4 linked regions of the Homo sapiens genome follow. The protein of the gene in region 1 interacts with the protein of each later gene in a biochemical or structural test. Each region holds a gene or a part of one and is shown in the gene's direction. Other genes may lie near its edges. The genes, in order: LRP2, RBP1, LRP2BP and SYNJ2BP.

Region 1 (7,029 bases):
ATCCAATGAGATTGTAACAGCCTTTATTTAAGCACTACCTTTTAGGTAGGCTACCATTGCAAACTTCGCATCACTAAAAATTGGAGGGGAAAAAAAAGAGCTCTGAGTATTCTATGTTTAGTCTTTGAAAAAAATTATACCACATCTGTTGTTAAAAATTATTTGCATTTTCCTTATCTTTTGTGTAATGCTTTTCAAGAAAAAACATTTTGCAGAGTCTGAACTCGAGTCAAGCTGTTGGGTTCCAACATTGGCTTTACCACTTTCTAGCTGTGTGACCTTGGGAAAGTCAACCAACTTTGCATAGCTCAGATGGCTTATCTGCAAAATTGACAAGATAATAAGAGAATTTACCCAATGACATCTTGTAAGCATAAAGAGATAAAATATGCCAAGTGCTTAGCATGGTGTAAAGCATATAGACAGTGAAAATAAACTAGAAAATAATCTAAAAATACAATATTTTTATTATATTTATCAACCCTTAAAGTAACATATTGTTTTGCTTCCTATTCCTATTTCCATTTCCAATTTTCAAATATACAAAGGAAAGTCTTCTTTAAGCATTTTTCACTAACAGTTCTCTGAAGACTTCTCAGACCCTAGCATGTGATTGGAAGATTTTTTCTTTTTTTTTTTTTTTTTTGAGAAAATCGTATTGGCCTTAAACAAAGTTGTATTCTGTTTACTAATTAAAAAAACTTATTTTTCAAAAATAGAAATGGGGTCTCACTGTGTTGCCCAGGCTGGTCTTGAACTCTTGGCCTCAAATGATCCTCCTACCTCTGCTTCCCAAAGTGCTGACATTATAGGCAGGAGCCACCTTACCTGGTCCAACATTATATTCTTTAATCCAATAAAAATGTGGTAATGTTTTTAAGAGTTAGTATCAGCTTTTATGACAATTACATCTTCACATGAAGTTTATATGTTTAAAAGGATTGTGGGGGCAATAGCAAACTTGTATCGTTTTTATTCCATCACAACTCTGGAACCTCACTGCTGCTTTAATTTCACAGTTGTTGGCTTCTCTTTCTCTACTTGAAAAAGTTTCTCTTTACCAGTCTTCATAAGACTTCTGCCTGAACTCCCTTCAGTCATGCACCTGTCTCATTTTAATAGAAACTCAGACTTTTTACAGCTAGAGGGAACCTTAGATATCAACTGGTCTGCTTGCATTTTTTTTTTCTTACAGATAAGCAATTAGCCCAGGAGGGAGAAGAAAGGGGCTGAGAGGATGAAAGGGAAGGCGGTTAATAGGTTTCTTGCCTAAGGACATCTAGCCTGTGACAGAGCTAAGATATAAATTTGCAGTGGACCATTTTTTAGATTCATGCCTTCTGAATGTCCCCAGCCTGTTTGGTTGGTTGAGATTTCTAGATTCCTTTTGGAATCCTGACTTGCCAGATAAGGCACAGTCTGATAAGCAGATGAATCTTAAAAACAATTGGATGGGTTACCTGTCCCTGGCCAAAGAGGAATCCTGTGATAGGTTATTACAACCATGTACCATGCGCTTTCAGCTTGGTCCAGAACTGATGCCATGTCAGTGCCCCTACTCCCAAAGACCATACCTCCAGATCCATTTTTCAAATTCTTGAGCCATCAAAGCGCATTCCTGAAGATCTTTGGGTTTTGTAGTGCAGGCTGCTGTAAGACTAGGTTTTCAGTCTTACTAAAGGTAATTATTAGGTCATAATCATTGTTCATGTTCTCTAGTCAGGCACTGTAAGAACACTGAAAGGTTTTTAAAATATTTAAATTAAAATTTTAAATTATCATTTAAAAATAATGATACCAGGAACCTAGATGTATTTCCTGTGTAATCAGAAGCAAGTGCATTGTCATATTGGCTTTGGAGTTTCTGTTAAGTCCTAGTAGCTAGAACAAGGTAAGTAGAAAGTAGAAGGTGCTGAGCTGGGCGTGGGGGCTCATGCCTGTAATCCCAGCACTTTGGGATGCTGAGGCGGGAGGATCATGAGGTCAGGAGATCGAGACCTGCCTGGCCAACATGGTGAAACCCTGTTTCTATTTAAAACACAAAAATTAGCTGGGCGTGGTGACGCACACCTGTAATCCCAGCTACTCGGGAGGCTGAGGCAGGAGAACTGCTTGAACACAGGAGGCAGGGATTGCAGTGAGCTGAGATTGTGCCACTGCACTCCAGCCTGGGTGACAGAGCAAGAATCTGTCTCAAAAATAAAATAAAATAAAATAAAATAAAATAAAATAAAATAAAATAAAATAAAATAAAAATAAATAAAAAAGAAAAAAAAAAGAAAAGAAAGTAGAAGGTGCTTATGAAAGAGTGTTGAATGGATAGGAAAGGGGTTCTCAAGGTTGACTGCACGAATCTAGAGCAACTAAAAAAATACTAATTGTGAAGCCCTATTCTAGCATGGAAAAAATAAGCTTGATGGAACCTTTGGTATAAATCAAATGGTTCTATCGTATCCTATTAACTTTATAGTCTTGAGTAATTAAAAATTTTTACCACTATTGTGTATTCTGTGAATGTTTATTTTATTTTTTCCATGAATATTTATTAAATATCAACAGTGTGCTGATGAGTCAATAGTATCAATACTACAGAAACATTAAGGAAGATGAGAACTGAAAAGAGGTGTCTACATATCTCGCAATTAAAATGGACTGCAGTTTTGCATTTAAGATTCTGAAATAGTCATTGACTCATTCCTAATAACCCTGCCCAGGATCTCACCAGCATTAGAAAGATTGGAGATGTTTCAGCATCCGAGTTCTGGGATGCTTCTTGATAATGATCAGCTAGTAGTTGTTTTGAAATGTCAAGAGCATTTCTGTGGTTCTTCACATGTTCCTAATGCAAATGTTTCCGAAGTAATTTCTTGACAGTTACAGTGTTTTGAGATGAAGTGGGAAGGGCTTGTGATTTTGAAGTTGGAGGATCTTGGTTTGATTCCTACCTCTGCCATTTATTATCTGGGAAATCCAGTACCACACATGCTGGGTGCTCTGGGGCAGTTTTCTTATCTGTAAAATGGACATATATCTACCTCACGGGGTGGTTATGCAAAGGCAATGAATGTGAAATGTTTAATAAACTGTGAAGTCTCATATAGATTTCCATTCATCATTATTACCCAATACGAGAATTTTACTTTTTCCAAACTTGAGAGGAGGAAGATGTTGCAGTATTTTGGTATCTTCTTTACCGTGGGTCTGAGAATGATGCACCTGTGCATGTTGTTACATCCTTACAGTGGCTACCACAACTTCACATGTTATTCAGTACTGTTATGTTGGTGAATGTCACAAAACTAAGTTAAACTGTCTGAGGCAAAAAAGGAAGGTTATTGAAATACATAGTTGAGGCTGGGTGTGGTGGCTCATGCCTATAAATCTCAGCACTTTGGGAGTCTGAGGTGAGCGGATTGCTTGAGCCTAGGAGTTTGAGACCAGCCTGGGCAACATAGTGAGACTCCATCTCTACAAAAAATACAAAAAATTAGCCAGGAATGGTGGTGTGCCCTTGTGGTCCCAGCTACTTGGGAGGCTGAGGTGAGATGATCGCTTGAGCCCAGGAGGTCGAGGCTACAGTGAGCTGTGATCATGCCACTGCACTCCAGCCTCAGCGACAGAGTGAGACCCTGTCTCAAAGAAAATAAATACATAGTTGAAAAGATACAGATAATTAGGTTGATCCATTTGAGATTGATTTTTTTTCCTATGCAGAAATAGTCAAATATTGGCAATTTCATTTGGTTCAACCTAATATAAAATGGAGGCTCAAACTATGTCAGGCCAATCTTGTCTTTTTTCCGTCTCCTGGCTCTGAGATGACTCCATTCTTAAACATGTTCTCCTTTGATGTAAAGCGGCTGTCAGTGGCTCTGGAGCCACCTCCTATCAGATCACATCCACTGGGAAAGAAAAAGAGTTTTTATCTTAGCTATTCCCAGCAAAAGTTTCAGTTGCATCTCAGGGTCTCTACTTAGGTCATAAACTCATTGGAGAACCAACCACTGAATCCCGGGTCATGATGTGTTCCCATGGCTTAGGCTTGGGCTGTATACTCAGTCTTTGAGATCATGTATGAAGGGGTGGAGTCCAGAGAGAAATGGGGGTAATTATTGGGAGAATGGTGAACAGAGGCTGGGATGCAAAAATAACAGGTGTTCAGTATACCTTATCAGATAAAATTGACTGACGATGTTATTTTCATTTTGTATGTGAAGACACACTTGAAAAAGCTACAGAAATTTCTCAAGAGCTGGCAGCCCTGGGGTAACTTACAGAATTGAAAGGAATAAAGTATTGGAAACATTAAGAAAAAAGACATGGTGATCTGTGCCCATGTGACCATGTTGCAACTTTAAGTTTAGAAGGAGAACAGGAGAAAGAAGGACTTTTAGAAGGTTTATTTGGATCCTAAAGTTTTCTTATTTGGAGCAGAGCTTTGTGATAGACAGGAAAGTTCTGGAAAATGAGCTGAGCGATCAGACTACAGGATCCCTTAAGTCTGGTGCAGTATTTCATTTTTCTGTGAATCTTAGGCTCCTACTCCTTTTCCAATTTACTTCACTCCAATGTTTATGTTCCTAAGAGTTTGTCTGTTTTCCAAGCACTAGTCCTTTGCTATAAGGATGGGGTAGAGAGAAAGAAGCTTAAAGAGTTTGCAGACAGGTTAAGATGCTTCTGTGGAGACAGAACACATCTTGGTGCACATCTGAGTGTCCTTAGCACTTCATCTATGGACTTCTTTCATAAATGGTAGAACACGTATCCATCACACCTTATTGGATTAATTCAGAAATGCCAGATATATGTACTCTTTGCTGATGGTTACTTTGTTGGTCTCTAATTTAAGTCTTATCTCTAATCACATTAGCTGAGAAAATGGAGACATTATCATTCTAAAAATAAGATGGTTAACTTTTATATTAGGACACTTCTGATTTAGGATAGCACTGAAATTCAGTGCAAAGAAATGTAAGTCTTTCCTAGATAATGACAGATTAGACAATTTGAAGTTTCACTTTTGGTCATTAGCCCTCAGGTCATGCCTGACCTCAAGGTTACTGGAAACAGTGAGAAATGAATGAAAGGAGGAAATGTAATTACCATTCTGTGCATTGAATAGTTGAGCCACTGTTACCATGGATACAATGGCGCATTTATTGTCCAGATCTTGAGATCCAAGTTTGTAAGCAATATCCAAGGTCTCCTTTAAATTTATGTACTATCAGCGAATAACACATGAAGATTCCTGGTAACTTTGAAAATAAGTCTTTCCTCACTGATCTACTGATTCACATTAAGTAAGAGCATGTGTACTTTTGAAGGTGTTGAGGAAACCTGAAAAAGACGAAAAGGAAAGTAGCTACACTTCTGTTATGCTGGACATTCTTGGATTCCTCTATAAAAATATTCTGTCTTATACTGTCAGTGATTTGCTTGTCACTTTGGGCCCAGTTCTTTGGTTTTTATGTCATTAACAAGGAGAAAATTTCCTGAGTAAAGGTTGAAAAAATCAAAATCGTTTATTTTTATTTTTTGAGACAAGGTCTTACTTTATCACCCAGGCCAGAGAGGGTCTCACTTTATCACTCAGGCTGGAGTGCATGGCTCCCTGCAGCCTCAACTTCCCAGGCTGAAGAGATCCTCTCCGCTTAACCCCACAAGAAGCTGGGACTACAGACACATACCAGCACTCACAGTTAATTTTTATATTTTTTGTAGAGATGAGGTTTCTCCATGTTGTTCAGGCTGGCCTCAAACCCCTGAGCTCAAGTGATCCTCCCGCCTCAGCTTCCCAAAGTGCTGGGATTATAGGCGCTAGCCACCATGCCCGGCTGAAATCATTTATTTTGTCAGGAAATTCTTAAAGTTGAATTTAAGAATGAAAGTATTTTATCAGAAATATGGCAATCCTACCCACATTTTAATCTCACTAGAAGGGGGGTGATACATGCTAGCATGTACTTCCACACTGGTTTAATTTTGATGTGGGGAAGGGTGTGGAGAATACTTTTTGTTGCAAGAAACAGAAAACCCAACTCAAAATGGCCTACACAATAAAGGGTATTTCTTGGCTTATGTGAGTAAAAAATACTGAGGCAGAGTGGGGTTCAGGCGAGGTGCAGTCAGGGCTCCAGTTCTCTTTCTTTGTGTTTTCCTTGACCCTACTCCCCCCTAAGTTTCACCTTTGTGTGCGGTCTGGCTTCCCATATGATTCTGATATGGCTGCCAGGGCAAATGGGGCTACGTGTTTCCTTGATCCTATCCAGGGGGAATCCAACTTTGAGAAGGTTTTAGTTATGTTCTCAAAAGTATTATTTCATCACAATAACTTACAGATTGTTAGAATTTCTAAGGACCCTAGACAAAGTCAGCTAGCTCCCCAAACTTGACATATCATCAAAATCACCTGAGGAACTTAAAAAAGTATAGAGATTCTTAAATCAAAACTCACCCTTACTAAAGCAGGGGTATGAAAATCTGTGTTTTTTAAAAATTTTATTTTATTTTACTTTCAGTTCTGGGATACATATGCAGAATGTGCAGGTTTGTTACATAGGTATACATGTGCCATGGTGGTTTGCTGTACCTATCAACCTTTCATCTAGGTTTTAAGGCTCACATGCATTAGGTATTTGTCCTAATGCTCTCCCTTCCCTTGGCCCCCACCCCCTGACAGGCCCCGGTGTGTGATGTTCCCCTCTCTGTGTGTGATGTTCCCCCCCCTGTGACCATGTGTTCTCATTGTTCATCTCCCACTTATGAGTGAGAACATGCGGTGTTTGGTTTTCTGTTCCTATGTTAGTTTGCTGAGAATGATGGCTTCCAGCGTCATTCATGTCCCTGCAAATGACATGAACTCATTCCTTTTTATGGCTGCATATTATTCCATGGTGCATATGTGCCACAACCAACCCAAATGCCCATCAGTGATAGACTAGATAAAGAAAATGTGGAAAATCTGTATTTTTAAAAGTTTCAAGGTGATTCTGAGGGCTGGACCAATTTTTGGGAACGTGTGATCTAGGT
Region 2 (7,293 bases), on another chromosome or scaffold:
GACATTAACCTCATAGATGGCATGGTAATGGCTCGGAGATTTGAGCAGGGTCATTCTCCATCGCATAACTCCGGAGACATATTTGAACACAGGAAAAAGGAAGATTTTAGAAGTCTCCAAGATAACAATGAGCCCTTGAGAAGAAAAGCAGGGACATGGTCTGAGAGACAGGGAAGCCAGATGAGAAATATTTTCTTATAAGTTGTAGAAGTATCAGGCCACCTTTCCCCTGCTAGGAGTGAATCTCTTGGCATGGGGCAGACCTGGCAGACAGGGTGGGATGAGACTGCAAGTCACCCCCTACCCCAGGATCTTGAGAGAAATATCTTCTGGGGGCTGGGGACAGAACCTCAGGGTCTGTTTCAGGGCTCTCCTCCAACCCCATTGCCTTTGGGAAGCTCTGCCACCCCAACAACTGGGGACCCTGGCAAGCTGCTTGATCTGCAGTGATACAGGCATAGTACTGCCCGCCTCACAAGGCAGGCGATTGAGGCATCATTTCATGGACCTATTTTTCTTTTTTCTTTTTCTTTTTTGAGATGGAGTTTCACTGTGATACCCAGGCTGGAGTGCAATGGCACAATCTCGGCTCACCACAATCTCAGCTTCCCAGGTTCAAGCAATTATCCTGTCCAGCCTCCCAAGTAGCTGGAACTACAGGTGTGTGCCACCACACCTGCCTAATTTTTGTATTTTTAGTAAAGACGGGGTTTCATCATATTGGCCAGGCTGGTCTCAAACTCCTGAACTCAAGTGATCTGCCCACCTCGGCCTCCCAAAGTGCTGGGATTACAGGGGTGACCCACCATGCCCGGCCCATGGACATATTTTTCTGAGCTCTGGTTTGTTCCTGTGGAGTTGACTGATCAGCTGAAAAATGAAAAGGCATATTTCCTTCCTATCCTCACAGGAAGGGCCTGCAGTGTCCCTGAGCTTCCCTCACTCAGGAGCTCACGCTGGAGATCCTTGGCTGTCTCCTCTCCTCCCCAACATAAAATTGTTCTTTGTGCCTGTCTAACTCACTCTATACACAGGCCAGGGTGGTTTCCCACTGGTCTGGCTCTTCTTTGTGGCCTTGGGAGCAATTTGAGCCCCCAAGAATTGGTTGTAGATCTCTGCTGCTCTTCTTTAAAGCTATTGAATAAAGCGAACCCCATTAGAGGTGCCTGAGTATACTGACATCTCTTTCTCTCAGTCATTTACAAGTTGGCCGTTGCTTTGGCACTCTGGCACTCCATTGCTCACCTGTCTCCTTGGTCACCTGGACTATCCTTCCTCCTCCTCATCTCTCTGATCCTGGCTGTCCTCAAGCTCCAGCTAGAGCCTCACCCCGTCCAGGGAGCCCTCACTGATTGCAAGCCCACACAGACACCCTCCTTCTTCTTTACATACTGTGTTCAGTTACTCTTTCTTTGCTTCACACATTCCAAGGAAGATTAACCCAGACAGAAAGGAGCTCCAAAAAATACTTTTTGTTTCCAAATCGAGAACCAAATGGATTAAATCAAGCACAACAGCATGGGCTGAGGAAGGATAACTTTGATGGTAGCTGATGCTTCTGAAGAGCATTTCCCATTTCAACTCATTAGACTGATCTTAAAGCCCCAGAAGAGGGGCACAAACCAGCACCCAGGCTCTCCCTTGTCTTTTCCCTCCCTTCTAGGGCCCCTCTGGCTCAAACAGCAGTGGATCTGGAACAGTACTCAGTGCCACGCCCTGTAGATTCCTCATCCTTTGCTTCTCAGCACCCTGAGAGGTAGTCAGAGTGTCCCCATTTCACAGATGTGGTGACTAAGCCACAAAGAGATCAAGTATCTTACCCCAAATCACTCTGGTAGACAGTGACCCAGCTAGCAAGAACAGGCATTCTGCCTCTAAAGCCTACACATGCAGCCTACCCTTTGCTGCAAGAAATAGCACAGCCACCAGGGGCTGTGCCTGGGAGGAGACCCAGAAGGGCAGGAGCGTACTGACCCATTTGGAAGACTAGACAAAGAGGTGGACAGACAGAAACTGAGTGAAACTAGCTGAATTAAGTGCTATATGTTCAGCTGACCAGGTCAGAAAAGTGAGATCAGGTGAGCAGAAGTTATCCAACGTGGTCAGAAGAGGGAGGAGTGGCAAGCTTGTGGTTCTTTGGGATGGACAAGAAGGACTGGAGAGGTGGGCAGGCCTCTGCCTCGAGCACGAAAGGGCCATTCCAAGCATGGCAGGGAGTCAGAACAGACTGGCCTCTGCTGTGTGCCAGGCACTGTGCTGAGCATTTGGCATAAACCATCTCAGGTGATTCAGCATAAAGGGAGAAGTTTGGGGAGGATGAGAAATCCGGCTAGCTGGGCTGGAGGCATCAGAGAGCAGGGAGAAGAGTTTAGACTAGTTGGAAGTGACCAAGGAATGGCCAGTTCACTGCTTAAGCCTTTGACCAATGCTCCATTCTGGTAAGTCAGGATAACAAGAAAGCCCAAAGCATGGCTGGCCCTGGTGGGATGCCTTACAGAACCTGGGCCAGGCCCCATCCATCCTTGCGAGGTGTCTTATTGCACCTTCAGGTTGGAAGGACTGGGATAGGTTGCCCTGAGTGCCCAGCCAAGATGAGCCCTGGGCTGGCTAGGGAGGGACACAGAGCCAGTGCTTGTGTGAACAACTGATGACCTAACCATCCAGAGCCAGACAAAGAAGCAGTGGGAAACAAGGGCCTAGAGCTGGCTCTCAACCAGGGCTGGTTTACCCAGCACCCACACCCCAGTGCCTTTGACAATGTCTGGCGACATCTTTGTGTCTGGGTGCCACTGGGATCTAATGGGTAGAGGCCAGGGATGCCACTAAATATCCTACAGTACACAGGACAGGCTCCTGTAACAAAGACTTATGTGGCCTAGAATGTCAGTAGCACAGAGATTAAGAAACAAATCCTAGTCTAGGGAAAGAGGGTGAGAAGCGCTGAAATCCAAGTTGCTGCCTGGGAGGAAGCTGTCTCTACCCTGAGGAAGAGGCTCCTTTTCCTAATTCAGCCTGCACTGTGAGAACACATGTGAGCCCCAGGGAGGCACCCTGGGGAAGGTGGTGCTAGAGGGGAAGAAAATGTTATCTGCTGTCACTTAGGCTGTGATTTGTGCAAAAAGCGATTTAAAAGAGGTAGTCAAAAAGAGGGTCAAAAAGTCAGCCCATGTGATTATGTCATCTACTTGGTGGCAAATGCAGTTAAACCACAATGACATACCCACGCAGGTGACAAAGGAGATGTGATCAAAGATTTTCATTGCAGTACTGCTTTTAATAGTGAAAGATCAGAAACAATATAGTTTGTCCATCAGGGGACAAGCTGGATAAGCAATGGAATACTCCGTAAAATAATGGGGATACTTTCTATGTACAGCTATGGAAAAGTCTCCAGAATATATTAAGTGAATAAAGCAAAGTCCAGAACACCGTGGAGTACAGTGCTGCCATTAGGTGAAACGGGAGGAAACATTAATAAACAGTATATTGCTTACATTTGCATAAAGCAGCAGTGGATCTCAAAGTTGATTGTGCATCAGAATCACCCAGAAGGCTTTTTTAGCCACATGCACTTCAAATAACATCAACTATTTTACTTATTTATTTATTTATTTATTGAGCCAGAGTCTCACTCTGTCGCCCAGGCTGGAGTGTAGTGGCACGATCTCGGCTCACTACAACCTCCTCCTCCCGGGTTCAAGCTATTCTCCTGCCTCAGCCTCCCGAGTAGTTGGGACTACAGGCGCCCGCGACCACGCCCGGCTAATTTTTTGTATTTTTAGTAGAGACGAGGTTTTACCGTGTTGCCCAGGCTGGTGTCGAATTCCTGACCTCAGGTGATCCGCCCGCCTCGGCCTCCCAAAGTGCTGGGATTACAGGCGTGAGCCGCCGTGCCCGGCATCCTTTCTTTTATTTTCGGGAGAGACGTGGAAAGTGCCCCAATTTTCTCGCCCGTAGTTGAACCTCCCAGCTTTCCTGACCCCAGCCACCACCGGCGCGAGGCTTTAGACAAAGGCCTGTAAGTGGCCTCTTTCCTTAATCACGCCAGCACAAACCCCAGGAGATTGTTTCCCAACTCCCGAGTGGCTGCTGAGTGTGAGAAGTTAATGGCGTTTGAAGGAAATCCCCAGCAGCCGAAGAGTTCGGCCAACAAAGCAAACGTCCCGTCTCCGGTCTCCTCTTCCTTTGTAGGGGAAACGAACTGAACGTCTGAAACGAAGGTGGCGCGGCCTGGACAAACCTGACCCTTCGACATCCCCCGCCCCTGCGCCCGCCCTCGCTAAGCGGGGAGGAGCGACCGCTACAATGGATCCTCCCGCAGGCTTTGTGCGCGCTGGGAATCCAGCTGTCGCCGCCCCGCAGAGCCCCCTGTCCCCGGAGGGCGCTCATTTCCGGGCCGCCCACCACCCGCGTAGCACCGGCAGCCGCTGTCCCGGCAGTCTCCAGCCGTCCCGCCCGCTTGTGGCCAACTGGCTCCAGTCACTCCCCGAAATGCCAGTCGACTTCACTGGGTACTGGAAGATGTTGGTCAACGAGAATTTCGAGGAGTACCTGCGCGCCCTCGGTAAGCGCTGCCCGCTGCGCCCTGGGCGCCCCGCCGAGCAGCTCCGGGCCGCTCCCTAGAGCCCTCCCGAGACGCTGCCTGCCTGCCTCCATCCCGGCGAGCCGCGGTCCGGTGCCCCCGGACGCCAGAAAGGGCGTCCTCGGCCACCGCTCCCAGGGCAGCCCCCAGGCTGCAGATTGGAGAATTCGGGGTTGTTAGGTTAACCGGTGGCAAATGTCTGCTCGTTGGCCCTGGAGGTGGGTAATTTCATTAGTAAATCTGGGGCTTGGTTTGCTACTTTTTGTTTTTAAACGGTTAACATAAGAGCAGAAAACTTTGTTGGGGGCGGCAGGGGAGGCACAGGCAGGCTGTGCGCAGAGACAACGCAAAGCCAGCGGGAACCCTAACAGTGTTCGCGGGCGGAGAGGGCTCCTGGGGCCCCGCTACCTTGGGAACGGTTCTCTGAGTTTCCCTGCCAACTCTCTGGCGCTCTCTCTCTCCCCGTTCAACCCCCACCGCAGACGTCAATGTGGCCTTGCGCAAAATCGCCAACTTGCTGAAGCCAGACAAAGAGATCGTGCAGGACGGTGACCATATGATCATCCGCACGCTGAGCACTTTTAGGAACTACATCATGGACTTCCAGGTTGGGAAGGAGTTTGAGGAGGATCTGACAGGCATAGATGACCGCAAGTGCATGGTGAGGATTCGCGTCCACCTGGTGTCTCCTGCCCAGGGGGCCTGACCAAGGGCTGGGCTAGTTCATCCGAGAGGGGGCAAGGGCCTGAGGGACTGAAAACTCTTCCCACTCTCAGCCCCCATGGTGGGCAGCACCAACTCATGAAGCATCCTGCTCTATCTACACTGGAAGGTGATGGTTATGAAGGCTGCCATGTGCTGTGTCTCCACTGCGTTCAGGCACTCTGCCCGGTGCTTTATGCACATGACTTCACCTAAGCCTCACACAGCCTTTGAGGGAGATATGAATATGCCCATTTTACAGATGAAGAAACAGTCTCAAAGAGATGAAGTAACATGTCCAGAGTAGCACAGCTAGGGAGGGTCTGGAGTTCAAAGCATGTCTGTTGATGCCGTTCTCTGGCTGACTGGGCTGGTGGAGGGTAAAAGAAAAGAAAGGAGGAAAGAAAAAAGAAACACAGGTAACCCCTTTGAAGTGTAAACTTTCAGTATGACTTAGTGTGAAGTCACTCCAGGAAGCTGGGGGCCCCTTGATCTCTGCTGGAAGCCCCCTGATCTGCCCATCCTTGCCCCAGAGCTGGGATTTGGCTCCTGGCCATCCCCTGCCCCACCCTGTCATCCAATGCCTACTGAGCATTCTTTGAACTTTGCAGCTGACACCTATTCAGTAAGTCAGGGCCCCTCCAGCCCAGACCAGAGGAAACAGCAGTGGGGGAAGAGGGAGGGCCAAGAGCTCCCTTCCACAAGGGTGGGAAACTCCTGACCCAGGACATCCCAATTAGTACTGCCACAGCAGATGCCGGAAGGCCAGCCCCAGGCCTCCATCAACATTATCTGGTTGCTGGGAGGTCAAGGTACTCTTGTTCTCCCTTTATAGTCTTGGGTTCAGAAGTGGCTTATGTTCATCCCAGGAGCCACCTTGCTTATTGATGGGGTCCTCACCCACCACCTCCCACCATTTACCAAGGGTCTTTACCGCTGGTCTGCTGTGTGTCCAGCACTGTGCTAGTCATCTTACAGCACAGCACAGTGAGGGAGGGATAAGTAACCCCATGTTATGCAGTGACTGAGGCTCAGACAGAGGAAGAGACTTGTAAGAGATGAGACTTGAGCCCTGGGCCTTCTGATGTTGAAGCCCACAGTCCTGCTTTCTGCCAGCTTCTCTGCTGGTAGTCTGTGCAGAAACAAGATAGCTGAGGTCTGTTAGGATTGTAGTTGAAGGGATGCCCATGTCTGGGAATAGGCATCTGGAGCCTGGATGACTCATCCCCCCACCTTGTCTATTCATCTGAAGGCAGTCAGGATTGGTATCTGAGTCTGCTGTTTGGAATGATGGGAAAGAGGGGGTAGTCAGCAGGGAGTGGCCTTGGAAGGACCACTAATGGGAGAAAACACCATTGTTGCAGAGAAATGTCAGGTTGTGCCTTTAAAAATCTCAAGGACTCTTAATCTGCAGGAAAGACTCACAATAGGAAAGGAGACCTTCAGATGGCATCTGCCTTTCTCATTACTGCCCAAGACCTGCTCCCCGGCACACTGCATGGAACTTTGCTCCTTAAGAATAATCCTTACCCCCACTCACTATTGTGGAACTCACAGATCACATCGAACCTTTATTTTGGGTCACCACAAATCTGGCATGTGCTGGCTTGTACTAATTATCTTCACTCTTTCCTTCCTTTCTTCATCCATTAACACATGAAACATTTATTGATCACCTAGTAATACTAGCAAATGCAGTACTCATCAAGTGCTTACTGTCATGCCAGATGCTATTCAAACGTTACATTAGCTGACTTAATCTTCACAACACCCTTTCAAGCCTCATTTTACAGATAAGAAAACCACTGCAGGATTTCTTGCTGTGTGACCTTGGGGAAGTGCAGAGGGAGGATTTTAGTTAACCACTGCCCTGAACATACTGCTTCCCTCACGGGCTGGTCACCACGGCAGGCACAGGACAGCAGAGCATGTCACAGGCCCTGATGTCCAGGAAAGCAAAGTCTTTGCAGTGGAGGCAGGCACACCAACACTCGCAACACAGTGTGGCA
Region 3 (7,029 bases), on another chromosome or scaffold:
ATTTCTTCTCTTGACCACCAATCAGGAACCTTTGCTGGAAGCTTGTTTCTGATTGGTGAAAGTAAGCCATAACAGTGGAATGCCAAGGAGTAAATACAAAAGTGTAGCAACAACTGAGTTTGCTGTCTCACTACCCTCAGCCTAGGCCAACCTGGACTCCTTCACCCCAAATGAGGTGACCGCTACATTTTATATGAAGACACTGATTTACCATTCAACTGTGATCCATCTTATAACATGGCAATCCAATACAGACAGGAAGATAAAACTCAACAACAGCTAAAATAAAGTGTATTCCCAGGTAAAATAGACAAGTGCTTTAATTTGAAATGGATTCGTCCGATGAGTGTCAGTTACAAGGGCAGAGAAGGTACCAGTGCAGAAGAGCTCTGACTGTGGGCAGTGTCACCAGGTCCCACTAAGTGGCAACACTTGTGCTGGGTGACTTGACCCATCTTGATGTATAAACCCATAGCCAGACAGGACGTGCAAACAGGTCTCATGGTGAATGCGATGCTGTGGAAAATGACATGGAGAATGGCTGTCTCTCAGCTAGGGAGGAGGGTCTTGGTGTCCTAGTAAAGAATGTTCACGTCCTGGAGTTGGTGGTTGGTGTTCTATCTAGGCGATGAGAGAAGGATGCTTTTCCTAATGAGCACCTGGTGGGAATAGAGTCTCTCTTTGCACTTCGCTGGAGGAAGAAATTTCTACCACTTATTTTTTCTTCTTGCTTATAGAATACACATTGCAGAAAAAGGATGAAGTTGACCAGTGAAAAGTTGCCCAAGAACCCCTTTTATGCCTCTGTATCTCAGTATGCTGCTAAAAACCAAAAATTTTTCCAGTGGAAAAAGGAAAAGACTGGTACAAATCCTGATATTTAAGCTTCCCTTGGAAAACACTTTAACAGTTCATTTTGCATGCTAGAGCAAACGAGACAAGAAATAATGTGTTTTATTGATTTCAAGGAAGTGGTTAATCATTAGTCCTTTTGAGTTTTCCCGCAAGAATCTGTGAAATTGCTCATTTATCTGGTAGCAAATCGTCAGTGAGGTCTCACAGATAGTTAGGTCTTGATTTTACTCTCAGGACTTAAGGACATGCTTCTAGAAAACAGAAAGCAGATGTCACGTTTGTTAAAGAGAACAATGCCAGGCTTGACTTGCAATTATTATTTAAATACCTTATCTTCCCTAAAGTCTTAAAAATGTTATATTAGGGATGGGTTGCTCATTTGGTTAGAGGAACTCTCATTAAGGCTCAAATTAAGAATTTAACTCACCTCTCCAGAGAGCTTTGCCCATTGAAGACAAACCAATGCATAGACTTATACCCAGCCCTGCACTGTTAGGGCTCTACTTGGCCATGAGCAGGGTTAGTGTGAAACCAATCAACAAGTATTGTTTGTTGTTGTTGTTGTTGTTTTGAGATGGAGTTTCGCTCTTGTTGCCCAGGCTTGAGTGCAGTGATGCAATCTTGGCTCACCGCAGCCTCCGCCTCCTGGGGTCAAGCTATTCTCCTGCCTGAGTCTCCCGAGTAGCTGGGATTATAGGCATGCACCACCACGCCCTGCTAATTTTGCATTTTTAGTAGAGACGGGGTTTCTCCATGTTGGTCAGGCTAGTCTTGAACTCCCAAACTCAGGTGATCCACCCGCCTCGGCCTCCCAGAGTGCTGAGATTTACAGGCGTGAGCCACCGCGCCCGGCCAGTATTGCTTTATTACACAAGGCACAGTGTTAGGGCCTGTGACCATGACGTTTTTTCAGGTAATATTTCTTCCTTGAGCTAAGGAGGCCAGTTGTAGGAATGAGCACTAGAAAGCAAGAATGTCAACAGTGTTAGATGGATTTTATATGATTCATTACTTCAAGAGAGAAAATTCATATTGTGTGGTTGATGGAATTCCTTACCTTTTTAAAATCAGATTACACCCATGCTAATTTGGTGGATAAGGCATTGCAGCTCTTGAAGGAAAGAATACTGAAAGGAGACACTCTGGCATATTTCCTACGAGGTCAACTATATTTTGAAGAGGTATCATTTTTTGTTTATTCGTTTTCATTTCCTGTAATTCTGTTGTTAGATCCTCAGACAAAAATTTCATGTAGAGTTTCTTACTGTGTTATACTAGGGAAATTCTGTCCAATTACATCGACTATGGCTGTGGCTTTAACAGTAGGATACAGTGCTGCCAGCTTGAGGAGCTACCTGACTTTTCTTCATAAAATCCATGTCATGAAAGCCATTTATGGGAGTCGTTTTAGTATAAAATCCATTTCACACTATAGATTAAAAATCAAATTTTTATATTTTTGCTCAAAATATTTAATAATACAAATTATATTATCAGGCCGGGTGCGGTGGCTCACGCCTGTAATCCCAGTACTTCGGGAGGCCGAGGCAGGTGGATCACCTGAGGTCAGGAGTTGTAGACCAGCCTGGCCAACATGGCTACACCCCATCTGTACTAAAAATACAAAAAAAAAAAAAAAAAAAAAAGTAGCTGGGCATGGTGGCACACATCTGTAATCCCAGCTACTTGGGAGGCTGAGGCAGAGAATCGCTTGAACCCAGGAGGCAGAGGTTGCAGTGAGCTGAGATCGTGCCACTGCACTCCAGCCTGGGCCACAGAGCGAGACTCCCTCTCAAAAAAAAGTATGTTTGTATTACCAGGTATCTTCATATTAATAATAATTGAAGCCTTGATTTTTATCTAGTACTTAGGGGAAGCTTTAGTTGTTCCTGGATAGCATAGGAGGAAATCGCCCTCTTTCTCCACATCTTGTTGGGGTGGCCTGGGAAGTAGACTGAGGAATGGCTATGCCAGCTGTCCCCTCAACTTCAGTAATGTAGTTTCGGTTTTTCATTGACTTCCCCGGGAAGACTTGAAAAGGGACTGACTGTCTTTCACCATTTGTTGACTATTTGGGCAGCTGTTCACCTATATCCCACTTACTCTCTCACTTTTCGATGGCACCTTCGTCTATCCTGGCAACAAATGTTTGCTGAGGGCTCATCGTGCGCCTGTTACTCTGAGGATGGCAGAGCACCATGGCTGAGAGCATGCTTCCTCAGCGTGGGGCATGGGTTCAGATATGGCTGCATTGCTTGTTAACTGTGTGTTTAACTTGGGCACAAACACTTGACCACTTGGTGCCTTTGGGATTACTTTAAGATCATAATAAAAATAATTAAATATCTTCTGGGTGCTTCTAGGGATGGTATGAAGAAGCATTAGAACAGTTTGAAGAAATCAAGGAGAAAGACCATCAAGCAACTTACCAGCTAGGAGTGATGTACTATGATGGGCTGGGGACCACTCTAGACGCTGTAAGTTAATGTCTTGGTCACAGTGGTTAAGATTTCATTGTCAGTGGATTATTGGACACAATTAAAATTATTTATATTTTAATACATATATATATACATATATATATATATATATATATATATATTTTTTTTTTTTTTTTTTTTTTTTTTTTTTTTTGAGACGGAGTCTCGCTCTGTCGCCCAGGCTGGAGTGCAATGGCGCGACCTCGGCTCACTGCAACCTCTGCTTCCCGGGTTCGAGTGATTCTTCTGCCTCAGCCTTCACAGTAGCTGGGATTACAGGCACTGCCACCACGCCTGGCTAATTTTTGTAGTTTTAGTAGAGACAGGATTTCACCATGTTGGCCAGGCTCTACTAAAAATACAAAAATTAGCCAGGCATGGTGGTGCATGCTTGTATTCCCAGCTACCTGGGAGGCTGCAGTGAGCCAAGATCATGCCACTGCACTCCAGCCTGGGTGACAGAGCAAGACTCTGTCTCAAACAAACAAAAACCAAAATATATTTGATTGTCCAATATTATTTTCTTCTTTTGGGTGATGTTTGAAGGTTTGTGTCTGATGGATTTGGGGGTGGAGGGTACAGATCTGTTCTTGCTAGTGGTTAGAATATCTTCTATGCTTTCCTTGTGACCACGTAGCAGATGTCGTATTAGTGCATAAGATTTGTATATTAGATACAAACTATGAGCACACAGTAAAAGTATGCTTGAATGGAAGACGGTGTTTGTTAGGGGCTCGCAAGTGTATCGTAAGAATTATAAATGTGAAAGCTGTTCCTGGCCATTCTTCCACTTTAGCCAGTTCTAAGAACTGTGCTGATTCAGGATAAGGGTTATTAGATGGGAGGGAGGAGAGAAAAAAGGAAGCCCATATCGAGACTTAAATCAACTCAGGCAGCTGTAAAAGGAAGGAAATTTCTTATATCCCAGAGCTCCTGGGAGTGCCTGAGTAGGAGATGTACTTTTAGAGATTCTTTTCCTCCTTATCGCTTGCCCTGCAGAATCCAGGACAATTGTACCCCTTGGGCACAGATTCATAGTATTATACATCGTGTCAGAGGGCGGACACTTCACAGCCTTATTGGGAGAAAGAAATTCAGTTTGGGTAAAACTAAAAACTAGGGTTTTTTTGCTCTTTCTTTTGTCGAAGGAGAAAGGGGTGGACTATATGAAGAAAATTCTTGATTCTCCATGTCCCAAAGCAAGACACTTAAAATTTGCAGCTGCTTACAACCTCGGAAGAGCTTATTATGAAGGAAAAGGTGTTAAACGATCAAATGAGGAAGCTGAAAGGTAATCCTACCTGAGAACAAGATTAGGTTTGAAGGAAATGCTGAAACCGAGAATAACATGCCTCACTTTCTCTTGTAGACTGTGGCTTATCGCAGCAGACAATGGAAATCCCAAAGCTAGTGTGAAGGCTCAAAGTATGCTCGGGCTGTATTACTCAACCAAGGAGCCCAAGGAGTTAGAAAAGGTAACGTTCCCTCTTTTTTAATGCTAGTGTTATATTTAGATTAATATTTGTTTCACTGCTTTTTTTGAGAAAATGGTGGGGAATGTCGTTTTAAATATCTCTTATAGTTCCTTTAAATGTAAAGAAAGCATACATTTTAGGATCTCAAAGCCCTTTTATTTATAAATGTCCCCTTCCCTACCTCTACCGAAGGAAACCATGAATGTGAGAGTATTTTGTATACTATAGTATCAAAGCTAAAAGAAGAGAAACAGTCCTGAAATTACAGCCAAAATCCTTCTAAGCATGAACAGATGAATATTACCGTTGACTTGAGAAATTGATACTAATAAGTAAAATATACCAAGAATTAGTTACAAATAAAATCCATCTAAGATTTTCACAGAAATATAATCTCTTTCATCAATGGTTGAAACAGTTTCCAAAAAATCCTATAAGGAGAAGGAAATGGGGGCTGAGTCCTACTTGTGAGAGAGGAGTTAATGGCAAATTTGCAAGAGACACATAACAACTAAGGCCATCTTTGGATAGATAAGCAGCCATCTGGAATTTTTTAAATGAATTCAAATTCACTGTAGCAGAGTATGAGGCAAATGTGCTTGAGCCTACATACAGCGTTTATCCTGGGTTGTCTTTGATCGCAGCAGCTGCTATCTCTAGAATCCACCGGGAGCTCGAACTCTCCCTTAGCATCAGTGGTTTCCCCTCCTCTGCTGTGCCTCACGCCTTTCAGACACTGAGTTCCTATTTGGCATCTTCCTGATCCTTACTCTGAAGATCCCCAAATCCTGAAACCTAGGACAGCTGGTCTTCCTCTGCCATAAGCTGCCTGGACTGTGATCTCACCTGCACTGTGGACAGACAGCGGAGGAACTCGCCTCCACACTGTGTTAGGCATGTGTGCTAGTGTGAAATGCGTCCAAAGGCCTACCGCTCTTTCCTAGAGATGATTAATAGTGCTATCTAGGAAACACAGAGTTCTTTTCTGTCTAGTATTCCCTTATAATTTCATCTAGTGGATCACAAATACAATGATGAAACTGTGCTTTTCTTAGGCATTTTACTGGCATTCCGAAGCATGTGGCAATGGGAATCTGGAGTCCCAGGGTGCACTTGGGCTCATGTACTTGTATGGACAAGGCATCCGGCAGGATACGGAAGCTGCCCTGCAGTGCTTAAGAGAAGCAGCAGAACGCGGAAACGTCTATGCTCAAGGGAATCTCGTGGAGTATTACTATAAGATGAAATTTTTTACAAAGTGTGTTGCATTTTCCAAAAGGTGAATGTCTTTGTCTGTTCTGTGCTGCTGTAACAGAATATCACACACTAGGTAATTTATGAGAAACAGAAATTTATTTCTCACAGTTCCAGAGGCCAGGAGAGGGCTGCAACCTCCAGAGGGGAGGACCATCATGTCCTCACGTGACAGCAGAAAGCTACAGGAAACCTCTTTTATAAAAAGGGCTTTAGTCCTATTCATGAGGGAGGTGCTCTCATGGCCTCGTCGCCTCTTAAGAGCCCCACCTCTTGATACGATCACACTAGCAACACTGGGATTTCCAAGGGAACTTACTAGTCAAACCATAGCAGTAATGTTTGAATAAACTGGATGAAAGTATTGATAAGAATGCCTACTACATGTTCTATGCCAAATCCTTCACAGAGCTTTCTGCAGTATTAGAAATGATAGCTATTGAGCACTTGAAATGTGTCTAATGCAACTTAGCACTAAACTTTTAAATTTTACTTAATGTAAATATTCATATGGCTGGTGGTTACCATACTGGATAGCACAATTCTATGCCATTAGCCTTCAGGATTTCAGTGCTACTAGCTGAAGCAAGTTTTTTAAGCAGCAATTGCCTTATCTGTAAGAAGAGAATACCTTTATAGCAGGATTATAATCATGTACTTAACACAGCTTGGCATGTCACACATTTATTACGTCTTCATTTCTTCCTGCACTCCTCGGTCATGCAGTTCTATAACTGCACCACTGAAATACAGCTTCATAACAACTGTAACATGAGAATATGGTTAAAAGACTGACACTATATCTAATAAAATATAAAAGACGTCTTTTCTCGGAGTCCGTAAGGCTCCATGTACTTTCCTACACGTATTTACCCACAGTGTATAAAAGCAGTGGGTCGGGGAGACAGACCTGGGTGTACTCTAGAGTGGCCATCAGACTCTGCGTGTGCTGGTGTTTCCCAATC
Region 4 (6,121 bases), on another chromosome or scaffold:
GAAGAACAATATTTATTCTTATAACAGCCAACTATGGTGAGTTATTATAAGGTAAATTGCCATAATCCAGCGCTGCTCACATCTAAAAAACTTTGAGGTGTAAAGGTAAATCGTACCAATCTCTGGGCTGCCCTAGTGACTTTTTTGATACCTCAGAGTCCTATTGAAGAACCAGGTGGAATGATTGTGGTAAGGGCTATAGTGCTGGAGCCAAACACCCCAGCAAGAAAACTCTAAAAGGACAAAAGATAAGGTAGTGCCTCCAAGGTGGCACCTGAACCCTCTCAGGCTACTTTTTGGTTTCTACTAACAAACCTGAGGGAAGGAACTGCCTCCCTGGCAGGATGGGCATCAAATCAACTCTGGCTTCAGATTTAGTTAAAATGAGGCCGGGTGCAGCGGCTCACACCTGTCATCTCAGCACTTTGGGAGGCCGAGGCAGGCAGATCACAAGGTCAGGAGTTCAAGACCAGCCTGGCCAACATGGTGAAACCCCATGTCTACTGAAAATACAAAAATTACCTGGACATGGTGGCGCGTTCCTGTAATTCCAGCTACTCAGGAGGCTGAGGCAGGAGAACTGTTTGAACCAGGACCTGGGAGACGGAGGTTGCAGTGAGCCAAGATCACGCCACTGCACTCCAGCCTGGGCTACAGAGCAAGACTCCATCTCAAAAAAAGAAAGGCATGGATTGCTAGTATTTTTGAAAGGCTTTATACACTACATACGGCTTTTAATAAACCTTTTTGCAGCAAGAGGGAGGAAAAGAGTTTTGTTTGCTTTAGGAGGTAGGGAAATGTGGTAGGTGTTTCATGCGGCCTAGGAGGAGGATATGAATGAATGGATACTATGGAATGCCAGTGATCTCGATAAGGTGGGAACCATCCTGTTCATGTTCTTTTAAGGCTGGTTTTAAGCACTATGGGTAGCTGAATTTTCTGGCTTTAAGAAAATCATTTCCATTAGCCAAATATATTGGCCATACTATAGGCCTTTTATAATTTTGTTAGCAAGATTATCAGGACTCAGGCAATCAACTGTATTTCATTTCTAGCTTGGACAGTCTGGTAATTAAATGTTGATTGGACATCAGCTTTGTCAAGACACTTTTACAAAGAAGTACAGTGCATATCCTCCATCCCATAGGGCTTTTGGGTTCCAACTGCGAAGACAACACTCTTATTGGCCACATAGGTAGGACAGTGTAAGTAGGGGTCATGTTTATATTACAGACAGCAAAAGAGAAAAGTTACTGAGAACTGGGGCGTTTGAGAAAGTTACGTGGAGGAAAGGGACAAGTTGAAGACCCTTAAGGGCCTCACAGCCTAGTTAAGAGAATTCATAAACAGGTGAGAAGTTAAAAGTATATCAGCAGGCTAAGTATTGAAAACAATATTAAAGGGGTACCATGCAAAACACGATGCAGCAACAAAGAAGATATGCAGGTAATCATCACATTTTCTTTTAGAAATTCAGGGAAAAAAAGATGTCACATAATGGCATCAGGCTCAATTGGAAAGGGAAGGCTTTTGAAAATAAGAGGTCCGGTAAGACCTTGCCTCTGGGTCACTACTGGTATAGGGAGAAACTTGCTTTAAACAGTCCTGACATAAAGTGCCTTTTGACATCAACTATTCAATACCTTTGAGACTCACTTAGACAACTGGACTCATTGTAGGTTCCACAGAAAAACACGGACAACATTCTAGTTGTCACTCCAACCAGCCACACTAGGAGGGCACAGCCTCTGGTACCCTTTCTGTTCCTGAAGGCATGTACAGCGGCTTCTACAGCAAGCTTGCTTACCTCCCAGGATTCACCTCATGGTTTGGACACTGATTCCTGAGAGAGCCTTGAGACACACAAAGTGAAAAAAATGTCAAGCAGGAATGAAAGCTCTAGTTTTTTGCTTGTTGGTATATGTAAATTTGTTTAAAAAGTATCCATTCTGTCGTTGGTAGAAGTTTTGCTTTGGTTGATAATAGAGATTCTGATGTACTCTTATAACTTAGGTTTTCTCAGAAATTAAGTAGCATTGAAGATCAATGTAATACAGTTTTAAGCAGGTACACTAATTATATTATTGATTCTATAGAAAACTAAAATTATAGATGAGGTATCAGGATCCATTATAGGTTGTAAAAAAATTCATGTTCTTCATAGATTGAGTCTAATATTTCTTCTATAGATTGCATCTAATGTTCCTACTACCTAAATTATTACGTTCAAAGTTTTGAAAATTGAACGAAGGTATTTTTAAGTACTTAAAACATTTCTCTATCATTCTGTATTACATGTATAATTATAAGATATTGTTTGCTTCAACTAGCTGTACTTTGTTTTCCTGTGAAGTTTCAACTTATGTGTTATCGATTTAACTTAATTGTTCCATCTAGCCATGTATAATGGAAAAAGGAAGTTAATATTTGTTATTGTGTTCTATGCCAGGGACTGTACCAAACTCTGATTGGTACATTATTTCATGTCTCATAACTCTGGGATCTAAGTATTGTCACAAAGAGACTAAAAATGAGAGAAAAAATTACTTGACTAGGATTATGTAGGTGGTAATAATAGAATCAGGATTTAAACTCAGGACTTCAGATGCCAGCATCAATGATATTCTCTCACTGGAAGTGGTTCTCAAAGCAAGGTCCTGACAAAAGCATCAGCGTTACTGGGGAACTTGTTAGAAAAGCAAGTTCATAGGCTGGGCATGGTGGCTCATGCCTGTAATCCCAGCACTCTAGGAGGCCTAGGCAGGTGGGTCACTTGAGCTCAGGAGTTTTGAGACCAGCCTGCACAATGTGGTGAAACCCTGTCTTTACTAAAAGTCAAACAAATTAGTGGTGCATTCCTGTAGGCCCAGCTACACGGGAGGATTGCTTGAGCCCAGGAGACTGAGGTGCAGTGAGCCGTGATTGCTCCACTTCATTCTAGCCTGAGCAACGGAGTGAGACCTTGTCTCAAAAACAAAAAAACAAACAAACAAAAAACAAAAAGCAAGTTCCCAGAAGAGAAAAAAGAAGTTCCAGACCTAGTGAATCAAAAACTCTGAGCGTGGCATCTCACAATCTGTGTTTTTGTAATCCTTCCAGGTGACTGATTCATGCTAAAGTTTGAGACTCATTGCTCTATGCCAGTCATCATTCCCTTTGCTCAGGTTAGAATCATCTGGAGAGCTTATAAACGTCCCCATGCCCAGGCTGCACACAGATCAATTAAAAGGAACCTCTGAGGGTGGGACTCAAGCAGCAGTAAAATAAAGTTCATTGAGTGATTCTGGTGTGCAGCCGCAGTTGAAAATGTTATATAGCATTTAAACAAGACACTATTTAATTAAACACTATTTAAATTATTAAATTACATACATTGCTTCAGGCAAAACAACAACAACAACAACAACAACAAAAACTTGGGCCTTTAGAGCCCAGCTTCCTGAGCTTCTGCACGAAGTAAGTGGAACATTCATTTCTTCCTGATTTGCTAAGGATTGATCAACCTCCAGCAAAATGTATGATTAGTGAGTGTTTCAGTTGGTGCATCAATTAAATGAGAACCAATCATAGAACATTGAAGCTAAAAAGGACCAGAGAGCTTCTAGGATGAATCTGTCTTAGAGATGAGAAAAATAAAGGCTCAGAGAGGGAAGCTAACTTAACTCTGATCAGACTTAGTTTGTTGCAGAAGTGACCTTTCTGTCTCATATTTATGTCTTGAATATATTCACTACATGAATACACAGACTACCCATTTTATCTTAGTCTACTTCTTTCTTCTCTCTTTGGGCCTGAATAAAGACCAGAACTGATAGACAGCTAAAGGATATTGCAAGCATCATTATTGGAATTGGGAGATTCCACAGAACAATCTGAGAATGATCTCATATCAAATCCAATCAGATGAGTTATTCTGAGACTAATTCCAATAGTTCTAGAGACTTTTTTTTTTATGGTGGACATTGTTTTTATTGTGTAAATAAGCAATTTTTAAAGTATATTTAAAGAAATGAAACATAAGGAAGTGTATAGGCTGTCAGGTATGTGGGGAAGTGAAGTTCATGTAGTTTTCATGTGGAGCCCATACAGATTTTATTATAGTCAATTTTAGTGAAATTTATCGTTGGTCAGATGAAGGTTTTTTTCCTTCATTCAGCAAATAACTAATGACTGCCTACTATGTGCTAGGTGCCGAAGATAGAGAGATAAATAACACTTAGTCACTCTAAGCTGAAATTGCTCAGCATATGAAAGTGGAGGAATATTTGTAGGTGATTTTGATGTTAAAGTATTTTTTTAACATCACCTGGTAGTAGAAGATTGAGTTATGAAGCTGTCTACCTCTCACCTGTAATAGTTTTAGAGTTGGTTGCTATTTTGGTGTAAGTCTTTTTTGCTGTTCCTCTTTTAACTGCAAATCTTTTTGAGACCAGCACTCACATCCAAAAGGGCAATTGTGATAAAAAAGAAGACAGTATTTTAAGGATTCTGATCAGAACCAGATTCTTTTCTTTTCTTTTTTTTTTTTTTTTTTTTTTTTTTGAGACGGAGTCTTGCTCTGTCGCCTAGGCTGGAGTGCAGTGGCACGATCTCAGCTCACTGCAATCTCTGCCGCCCGGGTTCAAGCGATTCTCCTGCCTCAGCCTCCCCAGTAGTTGGGATTACAGGTGTGTGCCACAACGCCTGGCTAATTTTTGTATTTTTAGTAGACACGGGGTTTCAGCATCTTGGCCAGGCTGGTCTTGAATTCCTGACCTCGTGATCCACCCATCTCGGCCTCCCAAAGTGCAGAACCAGATTCTTAACTGCCACAGACTCTTGTATTATGTAATTTATATACAGAACACAAAGCACTTGATTTGCTTAACTGATGTACTTGATGATACTATAAAACCTATATTATGAGAAAGCATTGCTCCTTCAAAGGAATCAAGTGATAGCAAACACTCGGTCCTGTTTCCAGGTTTTCCTCACTGTTCATTTTGCCTTTGTTCTTGCAGGGGGAGAATGAAAGGGGCGAGAGCTAAAGTGTGTTGTCAATGCAAGTCAATCCTTAACCAACAATAATTTACAAAAGAACTTTATATTTGCTGTAATCATTAAATTTAGTTACTAATCCCAGGAAAAGGGTTAGTCCTTCCTCCTAGTTTGTAGATTTGCAAATGGAGATGAATAATTGAATCCTATTTTAATCTTTTATCTGCAGTAATCTGGGCTTCTTATTACCGGATATATTTGCATTTTACCTCCAGGCCATGTTAGTTCTTAGAAGATTATTTTCCTCATGAACCCTGTTTTGTTTTGCTTCCTTTCTGCTTCAATTCTAATGTCACATTGCATACCTGGATGTAAACAGCAGTCAGTTTCTCAGATCAAATAGAGCCCTGTAGCAACTTGGAAGACACAGAAGACACACGGACATAAAACTGTATTTATTATCCAGGGAATGTCACTACGGATTAATTATGTTAATGAGGCCATCAAAATCTATGGTAATCTTTCAGGCTTTGTTGTTTGATACCAGATACAGCAAATGAGATAATAATGTGTCTAATTGTGCCTAGCCAGTATTGGTATTTAATAAAACTTTGTCATTGAATCTTTACAATCTTTTTTCACCTTATTTTGAAGACCGTTGATTAAATATCTCATTTTTTTTTCTTCCAGATGAGGGTTTTTTCCTTCATTCAGCAAATATCTGATAAGTGCTTACTATGTACTAGATATTCTTAGGGTAACACCTCTGACAGAATTGTGGAAAGAGGAAGAAATCTAAATGATCAGTTTGAGGCTTTGACATAGGAGATAAGGAACAGGACATTGATATCCTGTTAACAATTATGGAGCTCTTATCAATATTCCAGCTTTTGTTCTAAGGCCTTTGCATGTATAATATTTATTTAAGCCTCAAAACAACTCTTAAGATAACTGCTGTTGTTATCTTCATTTTATAGATAAAAGGCATAGAGAGGTTAAGTAACTTGCCCAAGTTATACAGCTACTAAGTGCCAAAGCTGTGATTTAAACCCAGGCAATCTGGCTTCAAAACCTGCATTCATAACTATAACACCTTACTGTCTCTACTTCCCATGGTACCAGGCACTGCATTAGGCTGCCCTTT

Evidence for each region.
Region 2: the proteins of LRP2 (region 1) and RBP1 form a complex in vitro, tested with the Homo sapiens proteins (one study listed by BioGRID).
Region 3: the proteins of LRP2 (region 1) and LRP2BP form a complex in vitro, tested with the Homo sapiens proteins (one study listed by BioGRID).
Region 4: the proteins of LRP2 (region 1) and SYNJ2BP form a complex in vitro, tested with the Homo sapiens proteins (one study listed by BioGRID).

Annotation. Positions count from the first base shown.
Region 1 is NC_000002.12:169,352,516-169,359,544, reverse strand, and holds part of LRP2 (low-density lipoprotein receptor-related protein 2 precursor), read left to right. Parts: intron 1-7,029. UniProt on the Homo sapiens protein: Multiligand endocytic receptor. Acts together with CUBN to mediate endocytosis of high-density lipoproteins. Mediates receptor-mediated uptake of polybasic drugs such as aprotinin, aminoglycosides and polymyxin B.
Region 2 is NC_000003.12:139,536,731-139,544,023, reverse strand, and holds the start of RBP1 (retinol-binding protein 1), read left to right. Parts: upstream 1-4,281; 5' UTR 4,282-4,305; coding exon 4,306-4,564; intron 4,565-5,064; coding exon 5,065-5,243; intron 5,244-7,293. UniProt on the Homo sapiens protein: Cytoplasmic retinol-binding protein. Accepts retinol from the transport protein STRA6, and thereby contributes to retinol uptake, storage and retinoid homeostasis.
Region 3 is NC_000004.12:185,371,916-185,378,944, reverse strand, and holds part of LRP2BP (LRP2-binding protein), read left to right. Parts: exon of another isoform or gene 1-737; 5' UTR 738-758; coding exon 759-864; exon of another isoform or gene 865-1,106; intron 1,107-1,282; exon of another isoform or gene 1,283-1,815; intron 1,816-1,926; coding exon 1,927-2,036; intron 2,037-3,218; coding exon 3,219-3,332; intron 3,333-4,483; coding exon 4,484-4,626; intron 4,627-4,704; coding exon 4,705-4,810; intron 4,811-5,865; coding exon 5,866-6,089; coding exon of another isoform or gene 6,090-6,093; exon of another isoform or gene 6,094-6,435; intron 6,436-7,029. UniProt on the Homo sapiens protein: May act as an adapter that regulates LRP2 function.
Region 4 is NC_000014.9:70,365,983-70,372,103, reverse strand, and holds the end of SYNJ2BP (synaptojanin-2-binding protein), read left to right. Parts: 3' UTR 1-5,605; downstream 5,606-6,121. UniProt on the Homo sapiens protein: Regulates endocytosis of activin type 2 receptor kinases through the Ral/RALBP1-dependent pathway and may be involved in suppression of activin-induced signal transduction.